Linked DNA regions of Homo sapiens: region 2 is linked to region 1. Evidence: fine-mapped expression QTL. Tissue or cell type: whole blood. Region 1 holds a variant in brackets; the other region holds the start of a gene. All regions are shown on one strand. Distances are from middle to middle.

Evidence for each region.
Region 2: MGAM2 starts here. The variant in region 1 is fine-mapped to the expression of MGAM2 in whole blood (TOPMed, PIP above 0.99).

What each region holds. Positions count from the first base shown.
Region 1 is chr7:141,987,214-141,990,136 of GRCh38, reverse strand. It overlaps a transcript of MGAM not described here. Among named protein-coding and RNA genes, the nearest start is that of MGAM, 7.2 kb to the left of the region's middle. The variant TA/A (reference allele first, on the strand shown) is at 1,447.
Region 2 is chr7:142,109,919-142,112,841 of GRCh38, reverse strand. It overlaps MGAM2 (maltase-glucoamylase 2 (putative)), which reads right to left and starts at 1,124. Exons shown (of 48, transcript NM_001293626.2): 1 at 1,035-1,124.

The DNA of each region.
Region 1 (2,923 bases):
GCATTCCCCAAAGTGCTCAGAGGAGTGCTAGCCACTCCTTAAGATGCTGCCCACAGAGCCTCCTCAAACTCTCTGTCAAAGCCAGACCCACATGAAGAGCCCATTCTGAATGCTGAGCCCAGAAGTGACAGATGAGGCCCAGTGTGCATCCTTCCTCCTCCTACATGGAACATGACTTCATGTGTTCTCCCTTCCTGGAATAAAATCCTTGTAGAAAATAATAATTTTATCTGTGTGGATTTTACCAGTAATTAACTATGGGTGGATTAGGTGTCCCTAAAATATCCCTTTAGTATGAAATTGTCAAACATAGTATTTCATTCAAGATAAATCTTTTTTTGGAGAGTATTTTCATGTTAAATTTTCAGATGATTTCAACTGAAAATCTGGGGAATTTTCCATAAAAATTGAGGAATTTTGGAAAATTTGGAGAATGCACTTTAGGGATTCTCAGCCTCCATACAGCAGCAAGAGGATCACTTGAGCCCAGGAGTTTGAGGCTGCAGGGAGCTATGATAGCACCACTGCACTCCATCCTGGGCAACACAGCAAGACCCTGTCTCTAATAATCGAAAAAAAAAAAAAGAAAGAAGAACATGGAGTTTCAAATCAAACTAGCCTGGGCTTAAATATGAGGTCCTCTACTTACTTTCTGCAGAACTTGGACAACCATTTCAATTTTCTGAAGCTCAGTTGCCTTATCTGGAAATCAGGGATGATCATGAGTACTTCATGATGTTACTTTGAGCCTAAGCTGACATAAGTACCTGACATCCAATGTCAGTTTCCCAACCCCTCCTCAGCCAGTCCTTTCTGAAAATGAAATAATATCCAACAAGCAGTATCATTAGCTTAAATTCTGTTAAGAACTATTCCTCCAGTTCCTCAACCCTTAGGAATAGCCACAGTAAACAGTCAACACATCCCACACTGAACTGATTCCACAGGCCAATGGAGAAAAACCACTACTACAAGACTCTCTTTCTCTCTCTCTCTCTCTCTCTCCCTCTTTCTCTCACATACTCATACACACACACACACACACACACACTCACAAGCACATGGCATCTACACCCCCACCTATCAAAATGATTTCTCACAGTCTTCATAGCCTACAAACATTAATTTTTACCTCTGTTTTTATTGCAGCCAAGTTGTTTTCCTTCTTTTGTCCCATATAAAAGACCTTAACATCTCATGCCACCTGCAAAGGGCAAAAAGGAGTTAGTTGGAGTAGGAGTAATTTCTCTGCCCAGAAATGTTCAGAGGAAGGTGAGAGTGGAAACAATGTACACAGGACATTACAGCATTTCCTTGTCTTGTGAAATGTCTATTATTTAGCAGCTTTACACCGTCTTCTACTCCTTTCCTCTTCACCACCACAGATAAGAACACATGCACACACAAGTATGAGTACAGAGAGAATTTTAGGAATAACACATCACC[TA/A]GTATTCACATAAAACTTTACATTTGGCCATGCATGGTGGCTCACGCCTGTAATCCCAGCACTTTGGGAGGCCGAAGCAGGTGGATCACCTGAGGTCAGGAGTTCGAGACCAGCCTGGTCAACATGGTGAAACCCCGTCTCTACTAAAGATATAAAAATGAGTCAGGCATGGTGGCGGGCGCCTGTTATCTCAGCTACTCGGGAGGCTGAGGTAAGAGAATCGCTTGAACTTGGGAAACAGAGACTGCAGTGAGCCCAGATTGCGCCACTGCACTCCAGCCTGGGTGACAGAGTGAGACTCTGTCTCAAAACAAAACAAAAAACGACAACAACTTTGCATTGTGTGACACTTTGCAGTTTTCAGAGTACCTTTTAAATATTTTTGTTTTTTTTTAAGACAGAGTCTTGCTGTGTTGCACAGGCTAAAGTGCTGAAGTGCAGTGGCGCAATCTCGGCTCACTGCAACCTCCTCCTCCTGGGTTCAACCAATTCTTCCACCTCAGCCTCCTGAGTAGCTGGGATTACAGGCATGCACCACCACGCCCGGCTAATCTTTGTATTTTTAGTAGCTATGGTGTTTCACCATGTTGGCCAGGCTGGTCTTGAACTCCTGACCTCAGGTGATCCACCCACCTTGGCCTCCCAAAGTGCTGAAATTAAAGGCATGAGCCACCACGCCCAGCCTCGGAGTACTTTAATCTGTACTATTTCATTGATCACAACAATCCTTTAAGATAAGGCAGGTATTTTTAATGCCCATGTATAAATGAGGAAACAGAAACTAAGAGAAATGAGTTGCTAAAGGTCACTCATATAGTGGTGGGGTTAAAGTCATACTAATTTAATTTCAATCCAGGAATCCAATGTTCATAGGGTTTGAAAGCAGTAAATACAGAAAATGGCTTTTTCAAACTAAATGTTTGTTCATTCATTCAACAAATTCAAAGTGGATTTGCCACCAAGTCTCCCAAACGGGAATCCCTCCAATCCTATCAGTTGTCAAATTCTAGCATCCTCACCTCAGAGATGGCTATTTCTCTTTAAGCTCAAATCTTGTTCTAGAAACCCCCATTATTTCCTCCATGCCCCCCTCCCCTGTGCCTCGCTGACACCTGCATGGTCCACTTCTGTGTGGGAAGCTCAACATAACCCTAACACTCTGATCTCAGCTGAGTGAACCAGCTGGACAGATGATCCGACTTCGTCCAGATGGATTCGCCCTCCCAAAAATTTAGATTTGAGACACAGTGCCTGAATCATACTGCACTGAGTGAGCACTATGTCTGTGGGATTACGGCATGTTATTAAGATACAGAGATTAGTTTTACTGAAAATGCTTGTTTGTCCAAAAGAGAATGGGATACACATGTAGAGAGTAGCAGAAAGAAAACATTCAAACCCACAGAAGGAAAAGCAGAGAGATTAACTGCCAGTATTCTTTTCATTTCTGTGAAGGCCAAGGTACAAGTTAATTTC
Region 2 (2,923 bases), 120 kb before region 1:
AGATATACTCTAATCCCTATAAAATATATATCATATGACTGTATTCTCATAAAATCCCTGCATTGAAGCTGATCAGACAGATATCATGATTTCCATTTTATAGATGAATATTAAGAAATTTTGTCTAGTCACGGTTAGTGGTGGAACTGAGACAAACACCGAGAGCCGCTACTTTTTAAAATAGTACTTGAATACTCTCTCGACAATGTATCCTAGGCTGCAGAGCTTAAAGACTTAGAGGATCGGTCTCCAATGGTGGAATTTCAGGTAGAGAAAGAAGTAGGAAGGACCTACCCTAAGAGTGCTATGGTATCAAACTTCGTTTCTTATACATACAGCCCACAACTCAATACCACAGCAAAGGCATTATTCATCAATTGGTCTCTTTCTGCAAGTATTATTTCTCTCCACAGGGAGACTTTTTTCTTTCTAGCTTCTAAAAATCAGCAGCAGGGACCTACTCCACAGCTCCTCAATCCTCCTGAGGGAGCAGGTTCAGCACCTTAGCTCAGGAAGTACAGGAACGCTCTGGGAATAACCCTGGGTATTTTCCTGCCTTAGGAGCTATTGTCATTCAGGCAGAGGACAGGATGGGGATTCCTAAAGGTAGAAATTCTTGCCTACTTAGAAACCCTTCCTGCCCAAAGCTGGGAGGAATTCACCTTCCTCCAAATCCATGCCATCTTGAGATAGTTTCCAGAAGGATCCCATCTGTTTCCTCTGTCCTTAATTTCTCCCAGTGAGAGAGGAGGATCTCACACCAGACCTCCCCCAACCTGTCCTCCAAACACTGACACCACACACACACACACACACACACACACACACACACACACACACACAGTCTCTCCTCTCCATCAACTATCTCATCCTCACTCCTCATATTTTATGGAAAAGGAAGAAAATATTAAGTCCAGAAGGAAAACATGGGCATCCAGATCACTTAACAGAGCAGCAGACAGAAAATCACACAAAAAGAAAGGGACCTTCCTGCCCTTGTTCAAAGCCCTGCTTGCATGGAGAAGCGTACTCACCGCATCACCTTGTTTTTTTCTATGCTGTATCTCTCCCTCAGCAATTCATAGGGAGCACTGAGCAAAGGTAACTGGGCTGAGGTAGCCAGCTTCTGCCACAATTAATTTATTGCCTTATAAAGTTGACAGCAACTGGAGGAGGGGAGTGCATATTCCAATAGGTCATAAAAGAACGCTTGTTCTCCATGTGACACAGAATGAAAGCTCCTTTTGTTAATAAAAGGGGAAGGTGGTTTTTTTTCTACTCATTGTCCCTCTTCTGTATCCCTGTTCATATCTGATTACTTGTCACGTTATGTTTCCTCATCTATACATGTAGCCTAAAGGGCTCAAGAGCTAGGGTCTTGTCTATCTTCTTCACTGTTGTATCTCCTGTGCTTAGCACTCTGCCCAATATCCATAGTTCTTTTTAAATATATAGCTATTTATTTAATAAGTAAGTGAAAGAAGGATTAGCTCTTAGTTCATCACTTTGTTCTTTTCTCCATTTTCATCCTCCAGAGTTCTCTTGGTATAACTCAGCTTTTCATTAATTCAAATGATCCTTTCCACCAATTATTCTAAATAGTGAAGTACCATTAAAGTAGCAATTATACAAACCCGTCCAGGTGCAGTGGCTCACACCTGTAATCCCAGCACGTTGGGAGGCCGAGGTGGGCGGATCACCTGAGGTCAGGAGTTTGAGACCAGCCTGGCCAACGTGGTGAAACCCCATCTGCACAGCCAGGCATGGTGGCAGGCGGCTGTAATCCCAGCTACCCAGGAGGCTGAGGCAGGAGAATCGCTTGAACTCAGGAGGTGGAGCTGGCAGTGAGTTGAGATTGCCCTATTGCACTCCAGCCTGGACAACGAGAGCAAAACTCCATCTCAAAAAAAATAAAAGAGAAAGAATGTATACAAACCTAAAGTGGGAAGATGCCTCTAGTGGACATTTGTCATGTTCTTCGATGGCTCAGCATCTTTCAAAACCTCTTGCTAAGATGGGGGAGGTGGGGAGGGAGACAAAGGTAGTAACACTACCTATTGGGTACTATACTCACTACCTAGGTGACAGGTTCAATCACACCCCAAACCTCAGCATCACACAATATACCCTTGAAATGAACCTGTATATGCACCCTGAATCTTAGACCCTGAATCTAAAATAAAAGTTGAAAAAAATTTAAAAACGGAGGATCTTTCTTTAAAAAGAAAAAGAAAACCTCTTACTTAAATCAACTTAAGGACTTTTTCTCCAAATTCTGCCTCCCCAAAGAAACAGCTAGAAATTCTCTTTCACAGCCTTTCTTTCATCCAAGGTAGAGGCAAGTGGCTGGAGCTTTGTGAATGAGATATTCCTGTGAGTGACTTACATCCAGAAGAAGGTGTAGATAAGGAGGTACCATGTAAAATCCAGGATGTTGGAAGCATAGCTCGTTTCAGAGGCAGCAGGGACAAGAGACCTAGTGGCATCCTATGCTCAGTATTTGGGGTTGCGAGCTGCCAGATATGTGCTCAGGGCAGTGGCAGTAGAAACCGCTACAGGGTAACCTGGGGCTTGTCCCTAGCCACATGGCCTACAAACCTGACTCTCTAGTCCTACCGGAGTTTCAATGAGTCACCAATATCTTTTTAAAATTTTTCTTAAGCCAGCTAAAGTGGATTTTTAAATTGACATATAATTTCCAAACCATAAGATTCACTCTTTTAAAGTATACAATTCAGTGTTTTTAAAAATATATTTACAAAATTCTGAAACTATCACCACTATCTAATTCCAGAACATTTTTGCCACCCCCAAAAATAATTAGTGGTCACTCCCCATTCCCATCTCCCCCTGTTTCTGCAGCCACTAACCTACTTTCTGTCCTTATGGATTTGCCTATTGTGAACATTTCATATAAATGCAG